2 separate regions of the Homo sapiens genome follow, and region 1 is linked to region 2. The links come from fine-mapping of genetic effects on gene expression. Tissue or cell type: whole blood. Region 2 holds a variant in brackets; the other region holds the start of a gene. All regions are shown on one strand. Distances are from middle to middle.

Region 1 (8,102 bases), 76 kb before region 2:
TGACTAAGTAAAAGTTAACAACTGCCCTTGTGTTCTTTGTCATCAAAGAGGCCCATTATTGGGTATATAGTTTTGGCAAGGGTAGCTAAGTTTTGGCCCAACCAATGTATTTATACTAAAAAAATGAGATTGTAATTTTCCCTGTTTGTTAGTCATTGTACAATTTTTTAAATTTCTTGAGGTCAATGTCTATATGATACTTTGAAGCTAAAATGAGACTAGGGCTTCGGTAAAGCTGAAACATGGTAGAATGCAAAATATTATATTATTGTTGCATCTTCATTCATAGCAATAAATGGAAACTCAGTAAATATTAAGTTAATAAGTACAATCAAAGTCTTTCATGCGTATGTAAGAAGCTGAGAAAAAAAATACTTGTGACAAATTTTCAATTCAATAAATGCCTTTAGTATCTACATGTGCCAGGAAAGATGGAGAAGGAGCTCAGGTCTGTCAGCAAATAAGTACTTGAAACTAAGACAATGTGATTAATGTTATACTTACTCCAAGATCAAAGCATTGAGCAAATGCACACCAAAGAAACATTTAGTGGGGGCAGGGAGAAGATGGGAAGGCCTCCAAAAGGGTATGTTTCTTGAAGTCCGCCTTGAAAAATGATCAGAAGTTTTAAAAATAAAGAAGAATGCAATTAAAGAAACAGTTGCAGTGAAAAAAGGTGAAAGAGAATGGAACTTTCTGGTGGCTTGTGGTCTGGTGCACCAAAATGTGGGTTAGCAGTGGCGGGGGAGGGGATGGGGTAGTGGGAGGTTGAACAGAAGGAAGTGACAAGAAATAAGATTGGGGAAGTGGGTCGAGGCAAGTTTGTAAAGGCACACAATTCTTTAGTAAAATTATGCATTAATTTAAAAATAGTTCTTCAGCCCATTATTATATAAAACCTGCAATGGTATCTCTTATTTATAAAAATAAAAATGTTTGTAAATTTATTACAAAGTTTTTCTTCTCTCTCTCTCTCTCTTCTTTCTCTTGCTCTCTCTCTTTTATTCTCTCTTAAAACTGTGAGTGCCAAGATCTTGTTAGCTAGCTTCAGTAATAAAAGTCTATAATCACCTACCTCTGAGAAAAATATGCTGGCCTGGAAGGGAGGATCTGTAACACACACAGTCAGTAGGAGCCTGAAATCCTGGCCATCTACTGCCCCCCACCCCAACTGCCCAGTGACCTATGGCCGGTTCCTTCAATTATCTAGCCCATTCCTTATCTCTAAAGGTAGCTGAGAGGATTAAACGAGGTAATGCATAAAGAGTAGCTGCTTACACTACGTGCTCATAATTATTGAGTGCTATTATTAATTTCCTGTCCTCTCCAAGTTAAATGGTACTTTAACAACAAGTAAATGAGACTTTACTTGTTGGTCTTCCCTTCCCCAAAGGGTTCAGAGATAGAATTATAAATGAAGTTAAAGCACTGAAATTGTTTCCCAAATTACCAATTGTTTCAAGGCATAATTTACAAAAGAGACAAAAATTTAAATGCTACAAAGAAAAGGGTCTCTGGGATTGCTAAGGAAATGTCCTCCTAGGCACAACTCCATCCCACCACAGCAGTGCTTGTTCAAAGGGCAAGACCTAGAAGATTTTTCCCCTGATGTTCCTGGGGGTGAGCTAGAATGAAGAGGAATATCTTTGTAACATATGGGGTTGATGCTTTAGCAATGTAAACTTAACTTTAAACAGGGGACCTTTATATTTTGAATTAACTTTCGCATAGTTCTTTTTTATTCCTTCGTAAATATAAGAAAAATACTGACATTCCTTCACATTCGAATTTATTTTATTCTCATTAATAGTTTTACTTAAAATAAGACACAACATATTTTTAGTCTGTTCTTTTACGGGGTTCAAGTCCCTCTTATCTCAGTTTCACATTTTTGCTTGTTTGAAACTATTCAGGTGAGATGTGCAAAGTAACATTGGTGGTCACATTTTGCAGTTTCCAGAAATTCACATTTATAGGTAAATGATTAATTCTATTCAAATTTGTCTACACAGACATTCTTTAAACAATTATACTTAATAGAAACCAAACTTATGACAAATGTATGTAAATTCAAAATCAAGATGTGTGTGGATAAGCCACCTTTATTTGCTTACTGATAGTTCTGACAGAGTAATTTTAGAAAACAAGTTGCTGTGTAAAAGAAAAGTTCGGTTTTGATAAACATCCTGATTAATGTTCGCATTTCCAGTCTGAATGGCTTTTATAGTTATCATTTGTCAATGGTTCTTAGTGTTATGTGATAGTGGTAATTAAGTAAAAGCTTATACTACAAAATCCAAAGTGTCTATGTTTGGGCAGTTTCTGAAATAAATATCCCATATCAACTGTGTAAAAATTTCTATTGTAGATAAAAGCCTTTCTCCCAGAATTTGAGTGAATATTCATTGATATGGTCATAAGCATAACAAATAATTCAGACAATCCTACAAAAACACTACAATTAAGCATTATACAAATTGCTTTTATTTTTAGAGAACAAATGGAAAAGAGAAAACCTCTAATTCCATGTGGTTATAAAGCACACCCATTAAAAACCCTTGGCGCCAAAAATCACTCAAATAACCAGTATCACATTCAGTAACATATGACTCTAGATAATTTATCCACTAAAGTACTGTAAAGAAGTTTTTTAGAAAAACAGAACCGCAGGAACTAAAATTAAACTACCCCCATTGGGCCAATAAGCCATACAATCTAAATTATCAATACGCGCTTTTCCTGAAAACATTTTAAAGAAGATAAAATCACAGTAAATAGCCTCCGTGAAATAGAGCAATAGAAATAAACCAGAACATGGTTTGGTTTTAAAAGGAAAAAGAAACCTTAATTTTGGGCAGGGGTGATAACTGCAGATAAGTTGAGAAGAACCCAGCCCAGAGAGCCGAGGTGCTCCATCTTGGATGGCCACGCGAGGTGGCGGCAGATGTCCTGGCCAGTTAGACAGTGGCAGGAATCACAGAGGTCTCAGGTGACATGCTCAGATCTCTGGTCCCCTGAAGGCAAAACCCACAATCCACAGAAACAGTGCCGAAGTGCATCACAAGCGCTTAAAACCAACAAAAACACATGAAGAACATTTACCTTGCAGGAAAAAAGCTGTCCTTGGTAGTACTGGTGTATGACCAGGAACCCCTTCTTTCTGATCTGCAGAACAGCTTTGTCAAGCCTGGGTGTGTGGTCACAAGGCAGGAAGTGACTAGAATGACAAATCATCAGCCAGGAAAGAAAAAGATTTTGTCTTTATAAGGACATTTTAACTTTTTTTTCATGTCCCCGCCCCACCAAAAATCACCTGACAGAACAGGTCACAGTGAAATTCAGACACCTCCTACCACTTCCTCTTTTTTTTTTTTTTTTTTGAGACAAGGTCCCGCTCTTTTGCCCACCTCTTTATAAGCATTTTTCTCTCTCCCTTTCTCCTCCAGCTGTCTTTGAGTAGTCCCTGGGCTACTTAAACCTTTCTGATTCTAGATAGCAAGGCAAGATCAGCCTGATAACTTGACTTCTTTGACTCTAGTTGCAAAAGCAAAGCCCAGATGCCTACCTACTTACAGCAAAGATCAACAAATTTTTCATTTTTAGTGAAAGAGCCAGGGAAAAAGGTGGCAGTACACCTGAAACAAATGAAAAGGGACTTCCTTGGGAAAGCCCCACCCCACCTGAAATCAAACCTCTCTGGAGTCCTCTAACAGTGATCTTATTGGTGCAAACAAAACAGAACGATCTCTTTAAGTGAAGGACATGAAAAGGAAGGTTACTAGATTATTTACTCATTCTTTTATTTATAGAACATCTATGTGCTAGGGATCTCTTTAACCCAATTAAGTATCTCAATTATTTAAGCGTTTCCTATAAAGAGCAGCAGTAGATTGCACAGGCAGCTGTTATATTTAAATGGGTAGCTTAATTCCTTCTTACAGGCAGGATTTTTTTTTGAATGCACATTTTATAAAATTAGCAGGTGGTGGCAGGGGAAGCTCTGTTCTGTACCCAAACCCCAGATGCTTGAGGGCAAATTCCTATCTTCAAATGGAGCATCCTCAAGTGCTCACAACAGTTGTGAAGACTGTGGCACCCTGAGTTATGTTGACTAAATATTAGACATGTCTCCACATTGCCCGGAGACTGTGTGTGACTCCAGTAGTCAATCTGCCGTTTAGGAATGAGGGTATGTGGCTGTACTCCCAGGTCAGATGCTGCGCTGAAGATATCTGCTCCAGAGTTGACATGCGTCCGTGTCCGCTGGGCCACGGGCCTCTCAGGTGGTCACGGTATTCTGACTGGTTGGAGGGCTGCCCTTATACTTCTTTTGCTTTTTTGATTTCTCCTCTAGAAAGTTCCTGTTTCTGACCTTAAATGTTAAACCAAACTGTTCTGGTTTATCTACTTCATTAGCCAGTGGTGTGGTGACTTCATCAGAAGCCCACAGGGGCTATCTTGAGGAACTGGGTGGGCGGAAGAACAGGACGAGACGGTGGGGATTCTAGAAACGGTTCACCTCACAGAGAGCTATCAGCCCTCTTGTGATTTCCCAGGGAAGACTGAGGGGGTGATGGGACTCTGTTTTCTCCATCGCATAATCACTCCCAATTAATAAGTTGCAGAGAGCTTTCAAGAAGCACCTACATTCTTTCAGGACACCAGAGGAACATCCATGCATCACTGTTACAGCACTGCTCACGCTACAAAGCAGCAAAATGCTGTCTTCATTCGGGGCCCTGCAGCAGGACTCTGTAGATAATGTCCTGCTGGTGTTACAGATACAAGGGGTTGTAACTGTGGACCTCCCTGATCTGGTTCCACATCCTGGTGGCTTCAGGATGGCATAAAGGCCCAACAGTAACACTTCATGAAGGGGAACAGATATTTATTCCTTTACCTTGGAGAAGGAAAGCACAGTGTTCTGTATCTAGTGGTGCCTGGTCATCTGAGGCCGGAGGAATCTATGAAGAAGAGCAAAATATATTTGTGCATTGGTTCAGCAAGTGTTTGCATGCCTGTCTGAATTGGTGATTCAGAAATAAATAAGACACAATCGCTGTTCTCAAGGAGTATAGTCTAGTGGGGAAAAAACATGTAAGTAAATAAATGCCATCTATAATAGAGGGGTGAAAAAGGCAGTGTGATATCAAAGCAGTTGCAGATTTGAGCAGAGGTGATGTTTGTTAAGTGAAGAAAAAGATTTAGGATTCCAGGCAACGTCGAGGTTGTAGAAGATGAAAGGCATTGACCTGGGTACTGCTTACAGCCACCCAGTTAATAGAGTCGTCTTCTACCCTAGCATCCACGGCAGGCACCCACACCCCCTCAGCCACATCCTGGCCGGCACCATTGCAAGCCCTGCCCTACTCCCTCAATCTTAATCTCTTTATCTGCCTCTCATTGGTGTAAGTCTACCCAGTTTCAGGCAATTGTTTAGGTCCTAGACCAAGACTTTTTCAGAGAAGTGTATTTTTTTGCTGTTGGTGTTTTAAATTGCTTGTGCAGCATAGTACTAGTAAACAGAAGACTGACTTTTGGTTTTCTTACGTTTTTATGTTCTGTACAGACAGTGCGCCCCCTTATGGCCTGAAGCCGGAGTGGACCTTTCTCAGCCCACCCTCTATGAGCCTCCACTGCCACCTGTTCCTGGCCTGGGTTTTGCCTTCCTCTAAGCCCTACCACCCTCTCAGACTTCATCCCACCCTCTCCTGCCCTGAAGCCTCTGGCCTCAGTCCCAGATATCAGATCACCTGCTACTCTCAGGCCTCTAAATATTGCTGAGGAAAGTCACAGAAACACAAACTTGGAATGCTAAAAAGTCAAGATGCTTGACTTCAAATTACTTTCAGAAATACTTCTATTCAATTTTACTAAGTCTTGAGAACAGGCATTCTCAACCTGGAGTCCATAGACCCCTAAAACTAAATGCACAATTTTGTGTGTATGTACTTTTTTTCTGGGAGAAGGGTCCATTGTATTAGTAAAGAGATCACAGACCCCAAAAAGTTGGGTATTTATTCTAAACTCTCTCCTCTTGCCTCAACCTTCCACTTCACCCTCCTATGCTTTGTCCTGGCCCAAGATTCTTCTGTTGCCCCTTCTTGACTGAGATGATCCAAGTCGTCTGGTATGAGCTTCCTCTCTACTTCCACAATATCCACCTCTTCCTCCTCTCTTTCAGTCTTAATGGAAGCGGCATTCTTCTTTCTTCCCAAGGTCAGTGTTTCAACACTATCTCACTCTTAATATTCTACTTCCTTAGATATCTTGCTCCATCAATTGTCTCGTGTTTCTCTAGCATCTTAATGCTAGCATCTTCAGCTCTCCCCACTTCCTCTCCATGCACTCATGGGATTTGTATGAAGAGAAAAACACCTTTGCTTCACTCTGCAGCCCACCCTCATCCCAACATATCATGGGCAGGGAATGAAGATGAATTAAGATGGGTACAGTCCTTGCCATTGTAGAATGTCCACTGTAGTTGAAGACACAGACAAGGAAAAAAGGCAAGTGAAGAGTTATCTACTTGGAAGCACAACAGACGAAAAGCAGCGTCCCTAGGAGCACACAGCACTAACCCAGACATGGGACCTGGGAGGCAGAGAGAGGGAGCATCAAAGTGGTGAAGAGTAAAGATGCTGGGCCAGCTGGCTGGGGTCAAGTTCCAGCTCTACTGTTGTACTAGCTGTGTGATCTTGGGCAAATTAGTTACTTGCACTGGCCTCAGTTTCCTAGTCTATAAAATGGGGGTAAGAACAGTGTCTATTTTAGACAGTTGTTGCAAGGGGTAAGTGAATTGATATATGTAAAGAACTTAGAAGAGTGCCTGGCACGTAGTATATCCTATGTACGTGTTAACTAATCGCTTAATATTTACGTCAGGCTCTGGACTAGACCCCTAACATCCATTATTTCATTTATTCCTCACAACAACTCTATGAATTAGGTATGATTGTTAATTTTTTTCTTTAATTTTTAAAATAATGGCTTCATTGCAATATGATTTACATACCATAAAATTCACCTTTAAAAAGTATACAATTCAGTGGTTTGTTGTATTTTAACAGAGTTGTGCAACAATTACACTATATAATTCCAGAACATTTTCATCATCCCCAAAAGAAACTCTGTACCTGTTAGAGATTCCTCCCCATTCACCCCCATCTCCCAAATTCCCAGCCACAGCCAACCACTAGTTTATTTTCTCTCTCTATAAATTTGCCTATTCGGGACATTTCATATAAAGGGAATTACACAATACATGCTCTTTTGTGACGAGCTTCTTTCACTTAGCATGTTTTCAAGGTCCATCCATGTTGTAACATGTCACTACTTCATTTTATTATTTATTCATTTATTTTGAGATAGGGGCTCACTCTGTCGCCCAGGCTGAAGTGCAGTGGTGTGATTATAGCTTGCTGAGGCCTTGAACTCCTAGGCTCAAGCCATCCTCCCGCCTCAGCTTCCTGAGTAGCTGGGTCTACAGGCACGCACCATCACACCTGGATATTTAAATTTTTTTTTTTTCTATAGAGACAGGGTCTTGTCATGTTGGCCAGGCCGGTCTCGAATTCCTGGGCTCAGGTGATCCTCTTGCCTCGGCCTCCCAAAGTGCTGGGATTACAGACATGAGCCACTGCACCTGACCTTCACTCCTTTTTATGGAAGAATGCTATTCCACTGTATGAATATATCACATTTTATTTACTCATCAGCTGATGGATATTTGGATGCTGCCTACTATTTGATATTATAAAAATGCTGCAATTAACATTTGTGTACATTTTGTGCGTGTGGACATATGTTTTCTTTAATTTATTAATCAAAGTAATATATGTATTTGGTTTTAGAAGTCAAATATTACCTCAAGGCTTCTCATGAAACACCAGTCTCCCGACACACTCCTTCACCTCTGATTCCCATTCCCTAGAACCAAGTATTTTGAACAGTTTTAGCTAATTCTTCTGTTATTTTATTACATATTTCTAGATGTTATGCTTATGGTGTATCTTGATTGGGTTCAGATACCTACATATATTTATGTATATGTATATATATGTTCATATATTTTTTCCTTCCTACTTGAGAGATAAATATTT
Region 2 (8,111 bases):
GTTCTGGAAATACATATAGTGCTGGTGGTTGCATAATACTGTAATTGTAATTAATGCTGCTGAATGGCACACTTAACAATGGCTAAAATGGCAGATTTTATGTTATCTATATTTTACTATAACAAAAAATACATAGAGCCTGGGCAACATGGTAAAACCCCATCTCTACAAAAAAATACGAAAAATTAGCTGTGCACAGTGGTATGTACTTGTAGTCCCAGTTACATAGGAGGCTAAGGTGGGAGGATCACTTGAGCCTGGGAAGTTGAGGCTGCAGTGAGCTTTGGGCAACAGAGTAAGACCCTGCCTCAAATATATATATATATATATATAGTTATTAGTAACCTCAATGCTTTCATCTTTCCTCCTAGTCTTCCTTCTTTCTAAAATTTTTAGGTATAATTTATATACAATAAAATGCACAAATCTTAGGTATTTGATTTAAAGTGTTTAACAAATATACGCACCCATATAACTACTATCCAAAACAAGATATGGGGTATTCCCATTATCCTAGAAAGTTTACCCTAGAAATGTCCCCATGTACATTTCTAGTCAATTCCCAGACTTCTAACATCATAGACTTATTTCACCTGTTCTGGAAAATTATAAAAGTTGATTGATACAACAAATGATTTTTTGAGTGTGACATCTTTCACTCAACATACATTTTGGGGATTCACCCATGTTGTATATATCAGTATTCCATTCCTTTTTAATGATGACCTCATGTCACATGGCCTCAGCCATTTCAGCAAAGTCAAAAATAGAAATGGGATTAACTAGGAACGAAATTTGTGGACAAGTCTTTTGTCTTATGGAATGAATACCCATGATATACATGGGAAACCCACTAGGTTCTTGAAGATTTTATACTAATAGAAATGTTGCCAGAGTGTATTAAGAAGGACAAAGACAGTATGAAATGAAAAAAGGCTGTCAGATCTCCAAAATTCCATGGGCAGGAAACAGCTGAATATATGTGCCAACTTTCATGAAAAAGGGAGGGTGATTCAGAGGGTGGTGCCAGGAACTGGGGAGGATGAAACCAGGAGCACCGAAGGTGGAGCTGTGATTCTAAAAGACAGAGCCAGAAGCCAGGAGGGCAGAAACTGGAAAGCAGGTGGCAGAGCTGGGAGCTGCTGCTGATTATTCCCAGGCCTTGAAACCAGATGAAGTTTACTCAGTCCTATTTCAAAATTGCTTGGAATTGGTAATTCCTGTTTACCTTTCATTTTCTCCCTTTTGAACCAGAATATCTATAACTTATCCTATGCCTGTCTCACCATTGTATTTTGAGAGCAGATAACTTGTTTCTTTAATTTCATAGATCCACAAATGGAGAAAAGTTGTGCTTCTGGATGGGTTATATCTGGAGCCTCACCTATACCTAATTTAGATGATGAGATATGGGACTTTTGAGATTTAGATGAGATGTTGAACTTTGAGTTGATGCTGTAAAGGTTAACCTTTCGGGAAATTGAGATAAGTGAATGTATTTTGCATGTGGGATAGATGTGAATCTTTAGGGATGAACTGTGATAGGGCGAATAATGGTCCCCAAAGATGTTCATATTCTACCAGAACATGTGAATATGTTATATTACATGGCAAAGGGAAATTAAGTTTGGAGATGAAATTAAGGGTTCTAATCAGCTGATCTTAAAGTAGGGAGATTATTCTGGATTAGTTGAGTGGTCCCAATCAAATCACATGAGCTCTTAAAAATGGAAGGGGGATGCAGAAGCATTTGTCAGAGAGATACCACCTGAGGACTTGACTTGCTTTTGTTGGTTTTGAAGATGGAGGAAGGGAGCCATGAGTCAAGGAATGAGGCAGCTTGAAAACCTGGGAATGGCCTTCAGCATACAGCCAACAAGAAAACAAGGGCCTCAGTTCTACAGCCGGAAAGAACTGAATTCTGCCAACAGCCTGCATGAGTAAGAAAACAGATTCTCCCTAGAGCCTCCAGATAGCAATGCAGTCCTGCTGATGCCTTAATTTTAGTAGAGTGAGACCTTTGCAGACTTCTGACCTATATAACTATAATTAATAAATCTGAGTTGTTGTACGCCACTGTTTGTGTTGCAATTTGTTAATGGCAGTAACAGCAAACTAAAATAAAACCAGTCAAAGATTTCAACTCTTGTGGGATCACATTCCCCCAGGAGGAGACAGTCAATATATGTAATAAATAAATTATATAGTATGTGAGAAGGTAATAAGTGATATGAAAAAGAACAAACAGTAAAAGGGAGTGAGAGTGTGATTTTAAGTGGGATAGCTAAGGTAGGCCTTATTGAGAAAGGGACACTGGAACAAAGTGGGGGTTTGTGATGTAAATTTAGCAGTTCAAGTCTAATTTAACAGTATTTTATTAAATAAAACAATTGGTTACTCAATTTGTTTGAAGCCCTAGTGTTAGGATTTAAATTAAGATACATATTTTTTCTAGATATTATCTAACATAGAAAAATGGTTGTTTATTTTGGTGGCTAAGCATTGTATTTAAAAGATTGTCTTTTTAATTCTTTTCATTATTAGTCTTTTTCTTATAGTTTCCATATGTTAAAATATGCATATATTTTTTTTCCCAGATATATTATTTTGGTACCTTCTCAAAGTTTTACTAAAAGTGTAATGGAGTACTTTCACTGTTATCTTTCCATTCCTAACAAGATCTTTCTAGTTTCATGAGACTCAAAGTGATAGAGTAGAAAAAGCAAGACACTTTCAGAGGCAAGTTCTGTCCCATATATGCTACAAACTCTAGCAAGCCAGTGACCTACTCTTTTTTTTTTTTTTTTTTTTTTGAGACGGAGTCTTGTTCTTGTTGCCCAGGCTGGAGTGCAATGGCACGATCTTGGCTCACCACAACCTCTGCCTCCTAGGTTCGAGCAATTCTCCTGCTTCAGCCTCCCAAGTAGCTGGGATTACAGGCATGCGCCACCATGCCTGGCTAATTTTTTGTATTTTTAGTAGAGACGGGGTTTCACCATATTGGCCAGGCTGGTCTTGAACTCCTGACCTTGTGATCTGCCCACCTCGGCCTCCCAAAGTGCTGGGATTACAGGCGTGAGCCCCCGCACCCAGCCCTGACCTACTCTTAACTTCAGTTTCCATCTGAAAGTTTAGAAAACTTATACTTGTCTTCAAGGATGTTACAAAAATTAGGTAAGAAAATCTTGTAAATTGGCTGGGCATGGTGGCTCACGCCTGTAATCCCAGCACTTTGGGAGGCCGGGGTGGGCGAATCACGAGGTCAGGAGATCGAGACCATCCTGGCCAACATGGTGAAACCCCATCTCTACTAAAAATACAAAAATTAGCTGGGCATGGTGGCGTGTGCCTGTAATCCCAGCTACTCAGGAGGCTGAGGCAGGAGAATCGCTTGAACCAGGGGAGTTGCAGGTTGCAGTGAGCCAAGATCACACCACTGCACTCCAGCCTGGTGACAGAGCAAGACTCTGTCTCAAAAAAAAAAAAAAAAAAAATCTTGTAAATTATTTTTAAAATCCTTTCAATTATTTTCACAGATTAGTCTCTTTTCCTTGACCTAAATTTCTAAAATAAAATAAAATATGCAATATTTTTGAAATTATGTAACAATTGATTGTTTCAATATAGGGCAAATTAGAAGTTAATAAAGAAAAAAGTTCTATTTGAGTAAAGCACACATTTACTGAGGCCTACATTTTCGTTCCTAAGGTTTTGCTTTGAGCAACTTAGGGCATACTGTGTGAGGCAGCATGGAGGCAGGAAAGCTCAGCTTCTGTGGGAGAAAGAACAGGGGCCTCCTATTAGTGGCCAGTGGATCAACACTCCCATGTTATGCTTAGAACTTTATTACTATGAAAAGCTCTTTGATTTGTCTTTTCAACTCTCTTATAAAATGAAGATAATAAATCACTTCAAAAATCCAAATGTTTTTTTTTCCTGTTCCCAAAGCTTTTGTAGAAAAGATAAAAAAGGGAGAAAAAGGGAGGTGGGGTGAAGGACAGAGACATGTTTTAGACTCATGCCCTGAGGTTATGCAGAAACAACTGTCACAAAGGTTAAAACAAAAAGTCTTTATCTTTTTCTCAGTGGATAGCAGGAGAAAAATGACATAGGAAATAGCTACTTCAACTGAGGGAGTCAAATCTTTGCCTTACTTGTTTGACTCAATTTACTTTAATTGGCAGGTAGGTTCTTCGGGAAAGAGAAACTATTTGGAACAAAAAGAACCGAACAGCCTATTTGAAAGCCGTGTCTTAACAGCAGATCTGAAATTGTACACATTTATTTTCCCATATTGTTATTTATTAAAGAAGGGGATTAAATTACCTTGCCTCCACATATCTGATGAAAAGGGATAGCTACATTTTATTTCATACCAAATTGGATACATTGCTTAACCTCTTATAGCTTCCATTTTTTTAACCTGTAAAAAACAATCCTACACTGGTATGTTAAAAGATCATTCTAAATTACCATATAGTAGGCTTTTAATAAATATTTATATCAGTGTGGTGGTCATCACTGTTAATACATGAAATTATTATTGCTAGTCTAATCTTGCAAGCTAACAGTAGGGCTCTAGTTTAGGCAGCTCATTGGCCAATAATTTGCTAATAAATCAAGCAATGAAATAAATGTAAAAAGTTTTACATATCCTAAAAAATGTGATAGATTTGGTACTGGTGGGACATAGAGTATCAGACCAAACAGGCTGTCTGAACAGATTTTCTCTGTAAAAATCATATATAGATGACATAAATTTCAACTCTAGAACCTATTCAGCTTCCTCAGTGCTGCCTACACCTGTTACATCTCACAATCAGCAGGAATATGTCATCCATAGTGAAAGCCTGGAACCAAACTAGGTTGCCAGAGCCAAGGTAATAGGGAAGATAGAATGACTCCAGAAACTGCCTGAGGCAAGAAAATGATATGATATTGAATTGAAAGATAGAGCAAATGGTATTAACATTTTCTTTACAGAGATGATAAGAAGTCAGAGATGAAC[A/G]CTGAATTGAATAGGCATTTCCTTTGTTTTCCTAGTCAGTCTCATTAACTTCTCAGAGCAAATTATTTTAAATTAACTGGGGTCACCATTCCTTTCATTCAGTTATGATTTACTCAGCACTTACGATGTACTAGACAGCATGTAAGGCACTGGATGTATAGAAATATGAAATTGAATCCGTGCCCTCTAGAAGCTCATAATTTTAGGAGGCAGACGTTTATTGCACGATGTGATGGGTACTATGAGAGAGTAAGCAGAGAAGTACAGAAGAGGCATCTCACCCAGTCTGAAGGATTTGGGAAGAGTTTGTTGGAAGAGATGACATCTGAGCCAAGACAAAAAATGAAAAGACAATGATCAGAGTCAAGCTTGGGGAAATTTTACGTGTTATTTAGAGATATGTGATAACTGGTTAATTCAGGGAATTTTAGCAAATAAATGCTGGACCACAGAGGAATATGGGGGATTGTGAGAGGCAAGCTGGACAAGTAGCATGGGACCAGATCATGAGGACCTTTATATGCCATGTTAAGACAGTAAGAAGTTGGCGAAAAATTCTGCTCATGATGCCTTAGTTAAAAATCATACAAATAACTTCTCACCTTTTATTTACATGGAAAACAAGAAAGTCTTTGAGAACAGCACATACAGAGAAGGGGGTGTTTACTAGGGATTATGATGACTATGATACTGAGCCCTTCAATTCCAGTCTTCAAGAAGCAATTCCCACTTCCATCCAACCCCTAGGAGTCAGGGCTTCTGACAGCACAACTATGTTTTTGCAGAGTGTTTGTATTCTTTGGTTCTCACCTTTAAGTACTTGTCTTGATGGAAAGAAAGATTAAAGGTATTTTACTAGAAAAGTCTTAATGCAATTGTAGTGGGTTGAATAGCATCCCTCGGAAATTCATGTCCTTATAGAACCTCAGAATGTGACCTCATTTGGAGATAGCGTCTTTGCAGATGCAGTTAGTTAATATAAGGTCATACTTATACTAACTTGGATAAGGGTGAGCCCCAAATTCAATGGCTATTGTCCCTATAAGAAAGGCATGTGAAGACAAAGGCAGAGGTTGGAGTTATGCTTCCACAAGCCGTGGAATGCCAAAGATGGCAGGCAACCACTGGAAGCTGGGGGAGAAGCAAGGGACAGTTTCTCCCTCAGAGCCTATGAAGGGAACCAGCCCTGCTAATACCTTCATTTCGACTTCTGGCGCCCTGAACTGTGAGAAAATACATTTCTGTTACTTTAAGCCACCCAGATTATGGTAATTTGTTAGGAAACTAATGCAACAACAACAACAAAAAAGTATCTTAGTGATAATGAAAATTTTTCTAAATAGGGCTTTGTCCACTCCAAAAATCTCAAACTGGTCTTAATGGATAGATGAGTAATTCTTAGGAATTTTCATAGTAATTACACGATCTATAATGAAAAGAAGTCCATATAAATTTCAAGATCTTAGAAATCTGGTTTCTATACTCCTGCCTACTTACTCAAGTACTTATTTATTCCCAGTGGTGATACATAATCATTTCTACAATTAATTTTCTCTTTCTATTTAAGGTTATTTTCCTTGTCTTATCTTGAAGAACTTGATGTTTCCTATAATGAACTTACTTTTATTCCAAATGAAATTCAGAAACTCAGGTATTTTGGAAGTACACAGAAAGTTATATGCCCCTTAATTATATATTTAATAATGATTGTGATAGAGAAAATCAATCCTTTCATTTATTTAATAGCCATAAAATGTAATCTGTGAAGTACAAAGTTTACCAAACATGTAATTTGAATGATTGGTGTACAGTATTTTTAAGACATAACATTTCCAGAAATTATTTAAAGAAAGTGCAGATGACTACTTAACAGAACGATAAGCTACTTATGTCCATTTGTCTGTGTGTGTACCTGTGGCTCTTATTATGTTTCATTTATTTTTTGTGAGGAAATACATTTACGCAAAATGCTAATAATACAAAATATAATTTTAATGCAAAGCTTCAATTCTTTCTAACATTAATAAAAGTCTGAAGTTTATCTATGTCCTTCTAGGTCAGTACTATACTGTTTTGATTGTGACTTCAGAATAATTTTTAATAACTAGTAGGGAGATTATTTTTCAGTAATAGTCTCTTAACTATTCTCTTTAGAACATAATCTTTCAGATCATTTTGTATAATTTCTAGCACATCCAGCAGCACACATAATCACAGAGTTAGAATTTTAATTGCAATTGCATAGAGTTTACTCATAAATTTGGGAGAATTTATATTTTTGATCAATTTTTCTACTCTAAAACTTTTTTTTCATTTTTTCAGATCTTGTTTTATGTTCTTCATAGGAATTTATGACTCACGTCATATTTTTCTTAATAACCTTTTCTAAGTGTTTTATGATTGTGATTGTTACTATGAATGTAATGTAATATTTCTCTTATTTCCACTTGTTTCTAATTATTGTCAGTACAGAATAGAGAAAAACTATGTACTTCTTTACATTAACTTAAAACTAATGTGTGTAACCAAGTTCTTCTGTTAGTTCTGATTTAGTTTTACTACATTTTATTTTGTTTCCTAGGAACGTAATCTTCCATTTAGCAGAATGAGATAATTTTACCTTTGCTTTTAAAATATTTAGATCAATTATTTAATTTCCTATGTGACAATCTCTATATTTTAGTAGGAGAATTCAGTCTGTTCATATTTATTATGACCAACATATTTAATTTTTGCTTTTCATTTTACTTTGTACTTATTATTTATTTACTTTCCCCTTTTCCTACCTATTTTTTTAAGGATGCTGTTTGTTCTCTTTTTAAATTTTTGAATTTATTTTATTTTTAATTTTTAGAGACAGGATCTCACTCTGTCGCCCAGGCTGGAGTGCAGTGGTATGATCATAGCTCACTACGGCCTTGAACTCCTGGACTCACAATTCTCCTGCCTCAGCCTCCTGAATAGCTGGGACTATAGGTGTACACCAGCATGCCTCGCTAATTTTTTTATATTTTGTAGAGATGGGGGTCTCACTATGTTGCCCAAGCTGGTCTCAAACTCCTAGCCTCAAGTGATCCTACCACCTCTTTTTTTCTATGTTATT

What was found. PIP is the estimated chance that this variant, and not a neighbour inherited with it, causes the effect.
Region 1: it holds the start of LCP1, and the variant in region 2 is fine-mapped to the expression of LCP1 in whole blood (TOPMed, PIP 0.92).

The regions. Positions count from the first base shown.
Region 1 is chr13:46,179,009-46,187,110 of GRCh38, forward strand. It overlaps LCP1 (lymphocyte cytosolic protein 1), which reads right to left and starts at 3,169. Exons shown (of 16, transcript NM_002298.5): 1 at 3,103-3,169. RefSeq lists an enhancer at 2,832-3,261.
Region 2 is chr13:46,255,334-46,263,444 of GRCh38, forward strand. It overlaps LRRC63 (leucine rich repeat containing 63), which reads left to right. Exons shown (of 10, transcript NM_001282460.2): 8 at 6,576-6,659. Among named protein-coding and RNA genes, the nearest start is that of LINC00563, 38 kb to the right of the region's middle. The variant A/G (reference allele first, on the strand shown) is at 5,009.